Linked DNA regions of Homo sapiens. The protein of the gene in region 3 purifies or fractionates together with the protein of the main gene of each other region. This does not show direct contact. Each region holds a gene or a part of one and is shown on either strand. Other genes may lie near its edges. The genes, in order: STON2, NUDT9 and CCDC32.

Evidence for each region.
Region 1: the proteins of CCDC32 (region 3) and STON2 purify together in Homo sapiens (affinity purification with mass spectrometry; one large-scale study listed by BioGRID and IntAct). This does not show direct contact.
Region 2: the proteins of CCDC32 (region 3) and NUDT9 purify together in Homo sapiens (affinity purification with mass spectrometry; one large-scale study listed by BioGRID and IntAct). This does not show direct contact.

Annotation. Positions count from the first base shown.
Region 1 is NC_000014.9:81,390,204-81,393,853, reverse strand, and holds part of STON2 (stonin-2), read left to right. Parts: intron 1-3,650. UniProt on the Homo sapiens protein: Adapter protein involved in endocytic machinery. Involved in the synaptic vesicle recycling. May facilitate clathrin-coated vesicle uncoating.
Region 2 is NC_000004.12:87,421,103-87,425,487, reverse strand, and holds the start of NUDT9 (ADP-ribose pyrophosphatase, mitochondrial isoform a precursor), read right to left. Parts: upstream 2,916-4,385; 5' UTR 2,583-2,915; coding exon 2,476-2,582; intron 1-2,475.
Region 3 is NC_000015.10:40,554,948-40,558,597, reverse strand, and holds part of CCDC32 (coiled-coil domain-containing protein 32), read left to right. Parts: intron 1-1,207; coding exon of another isoform or gene 1,208-1,225; coding exon 1,226-1,382; intron 1,383-3,650. UniProt on the Homo sapiens protein: Regulates clathrin-mediated endocytsois of cargos such as transferrin probably through the association and modulation of adaptor protein complex 2 (AP-2). Has a role in ciliogenesis. Required for proper cephalic and left/right axis development.

The DNA.
Region 1 (3,650 bases), on a different chromosome or scaffold from region 3:
TGGAAGAAGTGACAGGTCCAGACAGGCTTCCCTTACTGAACACCTAACACTGAGAAGGCTCTGGGCTAAGTGTTGATGCATGTAGGGAAAAGTTACGGAACACTGGGCAGTGAATGAGCACAGAAATAATGTTCCTTCTGCTTAATATGATACATTTACTGCATACTTATTGTCTCAGTTTCTGTGCTCAGTGCCTTAGCTACTTCATATCATGTACTCCTTACAACAATTGTATGAGGAAGGTATTAATATTAATCCATATTACACATGGTGGAGGAGACTCAGCCAGAAGTGGGCTTTGGGAATTCAACCAAGATTGTGTGCTAGGAAATGGCAGGAGAGCTTCCGCACCAGGCTGACCGGCCCCAAGGTCTTGGAGCAGCCTTCGGATGCCCTGTGCTCTCCTTCCGTTTGCCTCACTCTTCCTGCTGCTGCTGCTGCTGCTGCTCTAGTATCCTCTGCTCCCTCATTACCCAGGAGGCAGTGGGGGCAAGGAATGGAAGGTAAGTGATGGGTGGGGTGCTCTTTCTCCACTTTGCTGCCCTAAAATGGCCGTGCCTTCAGGTCATGGATTATATTCATGCCATTCAGATTCTTTCACATTTTATCTTTAGCCTCAAAGATTTCCTGATTGCTCAAAACTATTTATATGACAGTCAATTTGCTCAACTCTTCACTGATTTTTCCAAAACTAATTTTGAGATTAGTCATAATTATGTTGCCCCCATCTGACTGAGGATCTTATCTTGTGACTGACAATGCTTTTGATATATTGTGAAAGCTTTACCCTTTAAGGCAGCAATTCACAGTCTGGCCCATAGACCTTGCTGTCTCCTGAGACCCTTTCAAGGCGTCTTTGGGGTTAAAATCATTTTCATTCTAATTCTAAGATGTTATTTGCCTTTTCACTGCATTGACATTTGCATTGATGGTTAAAAAATAACAGCAGATGAAACTTTTGGCCATTGTCTACTCACAGTAAAACAAAATGTATATTTCACCCAATAATATCCTTGATGAGGCAGTAAAAATTATTAATTTCTTAAAATTGTGATTCTTGAGTATGTCTTTTTAACATTCTCTGTGACAGATTGGGAAAAAATACATGAAGCACTTTTGCTCCATATCAAATTGTAATAATTGTCTTGAAAAAAAAGTTTTTAAAAAAATATTTAAGAATTCAGTTTAAAAATTAAAGTTATTTTAAAATTATTTTTTAAAATCACATAATGCAAAAAATTCTTAATGAACAAAATATCAGTACTTTAAAGACAAGATTCAATTAACACTTTCATGACTATGCTACACTTGGCCCACCTGGACCTGGTGTTGCAGGAATTTTCCTAAAGTTCAGCTAAAGATGGGGTCCTTGTCCATCCCACAGCCATGAAAATTCAGGCTCACAGATGGTTTGAAGGGTAAGTAAAGCAGGGCTTTATTGGGTGAAAAGGAAAAAAGAGGGGAAACAGGGACTCTCAGCGAGGCCAGAGTTCATCTAGAGCACTTCCGGACCGCGCCCAAATCCCAGGTTCCACACAGGAAGAGGAGGGGCCAGGCTCTTCCCTGCTGCAAGTGGCACAAACTTCCGCAGCTCCACCCCAGTGCACAGGCCAGTTGGAGTTTTTCTGGGAACCCCCTCCCCTCTGGCTGTCTCACTGGTTCTAATAAAGCTTTATTTACAGAGATAGTCAACCTGTGAGCTGTAGTTTGCTGCTTTGATTTTGAGTTGATATTTTTAACATATTGCCTTAAAATGTTACTTTGATTACTGAGTTTTTTGGCACCCTCTTAAATTTTACCTCCAAGGCAAGTGTGTCACTTGCCTTAGCCTAATCTCAGCCCTGCATTGTCCTAAGAATTTTAGATGTATTAATATTACTAGAGAATAAATCAAGAAATGACAGTGTTCAAATGCATGAAAGCATAATTTTGAAAACTGCTCAAGTATGAATAATTCCATCTGTTCATATGTGTGAAAATTTAACTCAACCCTGTGGAGATGGAGTTTTCTACCTTAGGAGGGTCCTGTAGGATGGGTTCCCAGCAGACTTGATGCCCAGTCTGTAGGCAAGAAGCAGAAATAAACCATGTGGAGGGCCAGCCCCACCTCAAGAAGTGTTTCTAACCTGGAAACCCAAGGAGCATAGGGGACGGTGCACAGCATTAGAGTGGTAAAGAAAATGGTTCAATTCCAAATTTTCTGCCAATACCCAACTTGACCCATCAATGAACCTAAACTGAATCAAAAGCTGCAGAGTACATTCCTATTACCCAAACTAACCTCTCCCACATAAGCTAATTCCCTCTTGGGTTTCCTCCCATGGATTGTGTTTAACAATAAGGATAGAGTAATTGGCAGAGCTAAGGCCAATTACACAGGAGAGACTAGGCGTTAGCCCCCCACTCCTGCCCCCACATAATGGATAATGTAGACATTCCCCAAGTTACACAGTCATTCCATTCAGGAGGCTGTTGTGCAGCTCAGATTTTAATTTGAATCCAAAATGTTTGAATGCATGTGCTGTATATTGCAATAATACCACATATGTAACTGCAGGCATTATGCAGAAATAACACAGATGTTTGCAGCAAGTAGAGACAGTGTGAGACTTGCTGCAATCACTGCTACCTGCTCTGTTCTTCCAGTAATACTAAGCTGAGTAATGGCTCCCAAAGACATTAGGTTGTCCTCCCTGGAACCTATAAATATTATCATATTTGGGAAAAGGGTCTTTGTAGATGAGAGTAAGGATTTTGAGATGGGGAGATAATTCTGGATTATCTGTGGGCCTTAACTGCAATCACATGCATCCTTATGAAAGTGGCAGAGGGCGATTTTGCTTACACAGAAGAGAAGGCACTGTGAAGATGAAACAGAAAGAAATTTGAAAATGCTGATCTTAAAGATTTTAGTGATGAAGCCACAGCCAAGGAATGCCGGCAGCCACCAGAAGCTGCAAGATACAAGAAACAGATGCTTCCTTAAAGCCTCTGCGGGGAGTGCAGTTCTGCTGACATCTTGATTTTAGCACAGTGATTCTCATCTCAGACTCTGGCTTCCAGAACTGTGAGAGAATAAATTACTGTTGTTTTGAGATACCAAGTTTGTGGTAATTTGTTACAGCAGCCATAGGAAACTAATGTACTAAGTCTGTAAAATCTTAAAATGGAACCCTTTGCATAAGGCTGAGAATGAGTCAGTCTGAATTAGGGGAGCATCTGTAAATCTGTAATGATGCAGGACTTTTTGTTTGTTTGTTTGTTTGTTTGTTTTTTGTTTTGTTTTTTGAGACGGAGTCTCGCTCTGTTGCCCAGGCTCTGGAGTGCAGTGGCGCGATCCCAGCTCACGATGCAGGGTATTTCTTAAGGAGATGTGTGCATGTCAGTGTGCTTTGTCCCTAAACCTTACAGCTCCTTATAATTTACTCATTGAGTCACCAGATATTTACTAAGCACTTCCTCTGTATAGTTCTGCTAGGTGTGGATATTCAAAGACATAGCGCAGTGCTCAGAATTGAGCAGAAATCCACTGGGCTTCTTCCTGGATCCTCTAGTAGCAAACCAGAGCCAACCTGTGCTGCTGTGATTACCATCTCTTGCGGTTGTCTTTCAACCACTACTTGTCTTTCTGTTTTTAAGTTTTTCTTTTT
Region 2 (4,385 bases), on a different chromosome or scaffold from region 3:
GGGAGGCGGAGGTTGCAATGAGCCAAGATCACGCCACCGCACTCCAGCCTTGGCAACGAGAGCAAGACTCCATCTCAAAAAAAAAAAAAAAAAAAAGGAAAAGAACACTAGGGACACGGTCTTGCTGTGCCACTCAGGCTGGAATGCAGTGATGCGATCATAGCTTACCACAGCCTCAAACTCAACTCCTGAGCTCAAGCAATCCTACTGATCACTTAGTAGTCTCTGAGCCTACTCTGATCCTACTGATAGTGAGGACTACACATGCATGCCACCAGGCCCAGTTTTTTTTTTTTAGAGACAAGGGTCTTGCTAAGTTGCCTAGACTGGTCTCAAACTCCTGGCCTCACACGATCCTCCTGCCTCAGCCTTCCAAAGCACTGGGATTACAGGTGTTAGCCACTGTGCCTGGCCATAAAATTCTTTTTTTGTTTTTCTTGAGACATTGTATCACTCTGTCACCCAGAATGGAATGCAGTGGCATGATCTCAGCTCACTGCAACCTCCACCTCCCCGGTTCAAGCTATTCTGCCACATTAGTTACCAGGTACTTGGCACATTTGTTAACTGTTGGCTTTTTCTTTCAAGTCAGTACAGTCTCTGGTTCTGGATATACCTGCCTCATGTAGGGTTCCCAGAGTTACAAAAACGAAGAATAACTGTCAAGCAACTTTACACTGTTCTGCTGGCATCTAACAAAAAGAGCATTAGAGATTTCCAGAGAGCACACACGTGTATTCCTTCCTTCCTCAAATCCCACTAAAAGAAGATAAAGATAGATAAAGGGAAATAAAATCCGTACCAGGAGAAGGAATAAATGCCACCAGTGAATGACAGATGGTAACCAACTTCAGGAAAATGAAAAGTTGTTGGAATATTGACCTACAAACCAGAGTAGGACAAAGTAAAATAAGAATATGCACCAAGGCCGGGCGCGGTGGCTCACGCCTGTAATCCCAGCACTTTGGGAGGCCGAGACGGGCGGATCACGAGGTCAAGAGTTCAAGACCAGATCAGCCTAACCAAGATGGTGAAACCCTGTCTCTACTAAAAATACAAAAAAAATTAGCCGGGCGTGCGCGCGCCAGTAATCTCAGCTACTCAAGAGGCTGAGGCAGAAGAATCGCTTGAACCCAGGAGGCGGAAGTTGCAGTGAGCCGAGATCGCGCCACTGCGCTCCAGCCTGGGCGACAGAGCGAAACTCCTTCTCAAAAAAAAAAAAAAAAAAAAAAACGCATTAGGGAGAAATGCTATTCCTACAAGCTGAGCCGAGCTAGAGGTTTCAAGCTTGAAGTCAGTGGGCCCAAGGATCATAAACTGGCAGCGCGACAATAACCATGGAAATCACTCAGTCCTCCTCCCTCCCCAATCTCCAAGCAAAAAGTCCAAAATAGTTATGTTTGTCTCCAAGATAAAATCAAAAGTTTTTTAGAAATGAAGGGGTAGGACCCCTACTGTGAATACTGGTGTTAAGAGTACACAGCAGAAACTTAGGCTTAATAATTTTACAGTTCACACGGAGGAAATAAACAGCTATACTCAGCAGAGAAGTTGCTCCACCACTACTGCAAAGCCTGAAGCAAAAGGCAGGTTCCCAGTCTACCCATCTGGTACCTGCTCACATGCCCTCAACTGAAACCTTCCTATCTAGGCAACCTGGTACAGAGCCAAAAGTCAATTAGCGACCCATGTACTGAAAACAAGACCTATTACTCATATTAATCAAAATATAGACAGATAACCAGTGCCCATCACATGTTCGAGAAAAAGCAACAGAAGGAAACAGGACCAAAAAGACACAGAACAATTGACCAACAGTAAGTAAATTATTTAGGAAATAGATTTTTCTAATTATCATCTTTGTAGATTCAAGACTTTTAATATCTATAAAATAAGAAAAGGCTGCTGCACCTAGGACCCTGTGTTTACTAACTCAAAGAATAAAAACTGGAGAAGGGAAGAACAGAAGGAGGCAGTGTAAGACACCATAAATCCCTAAATTTAACCACAATAGACAAATTATTAAAAAAAAGGAGGTAGATAGTAAATATAATATATTGTCCACCCTGGAAAGGGGACAGGGGGAATAGTGATTTTACTTTTCATTTTACATTTTCAAGTTGTTTTAACTATGTACATGTATTAATACTAATAATAATGTTTTAAGTATTAACCATAAAAAAATGGCACGGGACACCACCACCCCAAACAATTGCTATTTAAACTCTCTCGTGATACTAACAATGATTTACAGAGAATGGCAAATTTCAAAATCAGAAGTCAAGAAGGGTCCCTGCCACTCGTTTTCCTCAAAAGGCAGATAAAATATTTTAGAGCCTTTTTGAAAACTTGTATATGACTATAAAAACCCGAGAGGCAAAGCAAAGCCTACAGAATACGCCAGAAAAAAAAGCTGCTTCCCACCCCCAACTCAAGGTCTAGGGCAAAGGAGCCGGTAGTAGGAGGGTGGAATACCTGAACGCCTGGATGCCGCGGCAGCGCGAGGACCTGATAGTCACAGAGGCCAAGGCCAGAGAGAGAGACACCGCGGCTAAAGCCTTTCCCAGGAGGCGTCCCGCCATGAGCGCCCCGAGGGCGGCTTTGCGATGCTAGGTCGCTCTTAGTTGGTGCCTCCGCCTCCCCACACCCCACAGCTCCGAGTCCCGGCCGCGGGTATCTGATGGGCACTAGGACCTGTCTGCCGTTGGGTTCCCGAACGGGAGTAGCTGTGCCTATCTATAAATCACAGATCAAGAGCCCTCCCACGATAAGAGTCCACCGCTTTCCCCAGTGCATCGAGAAAAATCCAGACCAGCACGTGACGCCGAAGCCTCCAGCGCCAGCTGCCTGGGGAAACCGCGGCCACGAACCTCGTAACTTTCTCTCTGCGTAATGGCGCTTTACGGCCGCGCCGCAAAGCAAAGGTCGTGCGTTGCCGGCTTGGTAGCGCCTTCCTTCTCCGACTTCCCAGACTTCCCAGTCTGCGCAGGCTTACTTGGGGACGCAGGGAACTACCAAGAAAGTGTCAGAGGAAAGGAAAGGTGAAACAGACGAGGAACTGGAACGGGAATAAGTGGGAAAGAAGCCAAGGGGTTTGAGAGAGACTTGCTGCCCTGGGTTTTTGGTTTTTGTTTTTTGAGACAAGAGTCTGGCTCTGTCGCCCAGGCTGCAGTGCAGGGGCGCGATTTCAGCTCATTGCCGCCTCAACCTCCTGGGCTTAAGCGAGTCTCTTGTCTCAGCCCCCGACGTAGCTGGGACTACAGGCACACACCGCCATACCTGGCTAATTTTTGTATGTTTTGTAGCGACAGATTTTTGCCATGTTGCCCAGGCTGGTCTCCAACTCTCAAGCTCAAATAATCCAACTGTTTGGGCCTCCCACAGTGCTGAGGTTACAGGCCTCAGCCAACGCGCCTGGCCCTGCTCTGGTTTTTTTAGGGAGTAAGTTGTTGCGGAAGGACGCAGGTCTTAGCCATATTTTTGAATAATACTTCGTTATGGGAATGAAACCGCCTTTGCAAAATTATGACTGATTTGGGAGGCCGAGGCGGGATCACTTGCAGTCAGGAGTTCAAGACCAGCCTGGCCAACGTGGTGAAACCTCGTCTCTACTAAAAATACAAAAATTAGCTGGGCATGGTGGTAAACGCGCCTGTAGTCCCAGCTGCTCAGGAGGATGAAGCAGGAGAATCGCTTGAACCCGGGAGGTGGAGGTTGCAGTGAGCCAACGTCGCACCACTGCACTCCACCCTGGGCGACAAGAGTGAAACTACGTATCAAAAAAAAAAAGAAAAAACCTCTGCTCCCTGAATGCTCAGGGAGACTGATTTGAGTAATAATAGAACTCCGGTCTCACACAGCTGGCTCTGCATGAATTACTCTTTCTCTATTGCAATTCCCCTGTCTTGATGAATCAGCTCTGTCTAGGAAGCGGGAAAGGTGAACCCCTTGGGCGGTTACAGCAAGAGGAGATAGTCCAGAGACTCAGCCCTCGTATCTTGAAGGGTTTCTTGGTTTTTTGTTTTTGTTTTCTTAACCAAGTTGTCTGCTCCAATTGCTGGATTTCATTCACAAGGCTTTGCTAGGACCAGTTGTGGCCCTTGGAAACTCGTGGAGGAGAAAAGCTGTGAAAATAGGCACACATGCTGGAGGAGGAACAGAGGGCAACACACATAATACTGGATAATAAACTTGAGAGGCAAAAATTAAACAAACCGACAAACAAAGTTGGAAACCCAGACTGTCCAAAGCAGCTTGTAATCAGGCTTACTTCATTTATATTAGCTTATTGATGTGGCAACTATTTGACTTTTACTTACATGATCCGCTGTTTCTGTGGTGTGGTTCCAATACACCGACGTTACAAAACTTTGACCATCTTAAAA
Region 3 (3,650 bases):
CTGACCAGGGACTCAGCATACTTAGAGAGAGGAAGACCTTTTCCGGCCCAAAAGAGTACCTTCCACTTTGACAACTGAGGCCAGACAATATGAAGATTGTTTTTATTGTTAAATAACCTATATCAAAGAGAATCCACTGATAACAGCAATAATTAAAAACTTAAATGTATGCTATGGATAACCCTTTTTATATCCTCAAGGAGAAAACAAACCCTGCAAATATTTAACATTTATCAACTGCAGGTTTTTTTTACATGGGTGAGCTCATGGTGGTAATAACAGGAACAAAAGGTATTTGTTTTGATCAGTGGGTGTTAGCTGATGTGACTTTTTTAGAAATGAAAACAGAACTGCAAATCATAGTTTCTATTGGTTCTAAGCTTGATGTTCACCACCCCACCATGCCATCATTAACCTATGTACTTATAGTTGAAGGCAAACTAAATTAAGGCAGACGGTAAATGGTGATGTCCTTTCTTGTATTCTTCGAAAGGGGAAATCTGTTAAACAATTAGAGTTAAAATGCAAACAAGAGTAATTTAACCTCTATCATCAAGAAGCCATATGGAGCACTGTCATGGGATTAGAAGACATTTGTTTTTATTAGACTCCAACATCTAGGCCACAAGTTGAGCAACTTTAAAAAATGTTGGGAGATTCTTTTTATTAAGAATTTAATCACACATAGAGATTTTAAAGGTCTCTTATTGAGTTCTCATCAAGTCAATTTTAATATCTAATGAACCGTTGGATCTTTCATCATTTTCTCTAATTCTTTCTCATGAGATTTGGAAACCACTTCATGTTACTGTAACAAAAAGAAAAAACCACTTACTCCTCAGAGAGATTATTTTCAAGGAGTTGAAAAAAGACAGTAGTATACACATGTCAAACCAGGGAAAACAAGCATTCCTTAGAGAGATACCTGCTGGGCTTACGTGATTTCAAAGAAAACATGCCATTGACTTATTTATGAGAACCTATGGCTTTTCCCTTTTCTCGGGTTAAACATTTATTTGATACAATGCAGGGTGAGGACTTTGTGAAGGAAAAAGGAAGAATGTTCAATTCCCTTTTATCTGTCCTTAAAAAATGACCTCTTTGGCAGGGAGTGTGGATGTCCTCATCGGTGAGAGATTTTTTAAGTTAGTATTTTGAGTTTTAGATTTAGTTAAAATTTCATGTCATGCTCATTTTCCTTGTTAAGCTCTACTTCTCTCTCTAGAGAAGAAGCTAAGAAGAATCAAAGGTTTAAATCAGGAAGTGACTTCCAAGGACATGCTTCGAACTCTGGCCCAAGCCAAGAAGGAATGCTGGGATCGGTTCCTCCAGGAGAAGTTAGCTTCAGAGTTCTTTGTGGATGGACTTGATTCTGATGAGAGGTAATCGATTCCCCGTCTAGTTCCAGCTGAAATCATCCTTTATGTAGTTGTTCTATTTGTTTTTAGCCCAGCAGTAGATTTTTAAGAACAGACTTTTTTGCCAAAAGGCAAATACTGCAGCTACGTGTTGGTCACAGATTGAATAGAGTTAAGGATAAAGCATTGTGTTCATTTTTAAGTATGCAATGAACTTGAGAAAGTAGTAACTAATCAGTCTCTCATGTTCTTGAATTCTTTCTCATGAGGTTTGGAAACCATGTTACTGTAACAAAAGGAAAAACCATTTACTCCTCAGAGAGATTATTTTCTGGAACTATCTCTTCATCTCTTCTTACCTCTGAATTTCCACTGCTTTACAGATTTTTTTTTTTTTTTTTTGAGATGGAATCTCGCTCTGTTGCCCAGGCTGGAGTGCAGTGGCACGATCTCGGCTCACTGCAATCTCTGCCTCCTGGGTTCAAGCAATTCTTGTGCCTCAGCTTCCTGAGTAGCCGGGACTACAGGCGTGTGCCACAACACCCGGCTAATTTTTGTATTTTTAGTAGAGATGGAGTTTCACCATGTTGGCCAGGCTGGTCTCAAACTTCTGACCTCAGGTGATCTGCCTGCCTCGGCCTCACAAAGTGCTGGGATTACAAGCGGGAGCCACTGCACCTGGCCTGCCTTACAGAATTTTTGTCAGATTGTAGCCACTCAATGAATTTACGCAGACTAAATTAATGAATTTATTAAGCATCCACTGTGTGATAGCACTGTGCTTGGTGTCATGGAGGGAATGGTGTAAGGAAGTTTTAAACCCATTTGTTTTTGTCCTCAAAACTACTTGAGGGCAGATGACAAATATATATAAAGACATACCTAACAATACCAGGCATTAATAAGAGAAGGGCCAGTTGAGTAGAAGTGACAGAATGTGCTTTGGGAATTGAGAGGCCACTGAGCTCCCTCCTGGCTTTGGTGTTTTGCCATAGAGGGAGGCAGGACTTGAACAGTACCTGCAAGTAGTTTAGATGCAGAAAGATAGAGAGGGCATGCTGCCCTGCCACAATGAGCAGGAATGGGGCTCGACACTCAGGAAATCGGCTCTGCCACTTACTGGTTGTATGTTCTTGGGTAAGTAACCTATGTGTGCCTCAGTTTCCTGATCTGTGAAATGGGAGCAATCAGCTCTTACCTCATAAGTTGTTATGAGGGTTAAATGAGTTACTATTTGTAAAGGGTATAGAACAATGCCTAGCACATGGTAAGCACTATAGAAGTGTTGGCTGTTACTAATATTATCCTTCCTACAGAATTTTAGAGTTTGGTAAGAAATTATTCAAAGTAAAAATCAATGGGGGGGAGTAAAAAATTGAATTTTAACAAAAGATCTTAGGGGAATGTGATTTAACTTGAGTTTCCAACATATGGACATTGGTGTTGAGAATCCCATCATATCAGAAGAAGTACTGCTGCCGAAATCAGGACAGTATGTGAATAAAACTTCATAGGTACATTTACTTGCAAATGTGTAAAATACTTTCACTTACATTATCTCAAATGCTTAATCAGCATGCCTCTAGATGCTTCAGAAATCAGCGTAGCATCTAAGGTCAGGCCAACTCTCCTCTGAGGGTTCAGGAAATTATATACATTTTGCTCTTTTCTATCTCTAAAGGTCCAACCTAATTAAGTCTTAAATTGCTCCAAACATAGGAGATTTGAAGATGCAGACTCCTGACCCACTGATAATTTGGTATTTACTTATATTCTGTCCCCCTGAATACCTCTCTTCTCTCCAGCTCTGAGAAGAAAAGACAAAACTTTCTCCTGTGTCATTTTCAAGTAGAAATCCTCTTTCTCTGAAATCAGATCAGCATGTTCCTACGTATTTATCAATATGTAAAATAATGTAGATTTCCCTTCTCTATGGAAATAATTTGAACAATTTGATGAAAAGTGTGGTAAATGAAGATTAAATGCTGTGTCACACCTGATTCCCCTGAGCTGTGAGCACTAGAGTCAATCAGCCGCTCTCATTGCCCTCTGACATTTAGATTTTTCCCCAGAGCCTACATCTGTGGGAATGTTTCTTTCTATCATTATCCAGAACAAACACCAGGAAACACTAGTTCTTCAAAGTTTATCTTTTAAACAGAGGCCATTTTACAATGGGGTTGTATAGGTCTTCACGTATGTGAGGGCCAGGTAGGTGATCCTCCTTGTGGTATGCTTTTGGCAAGGGAGTAATGGGCTGAGAAATCCGACTATCCAAAACATAAATTCCCC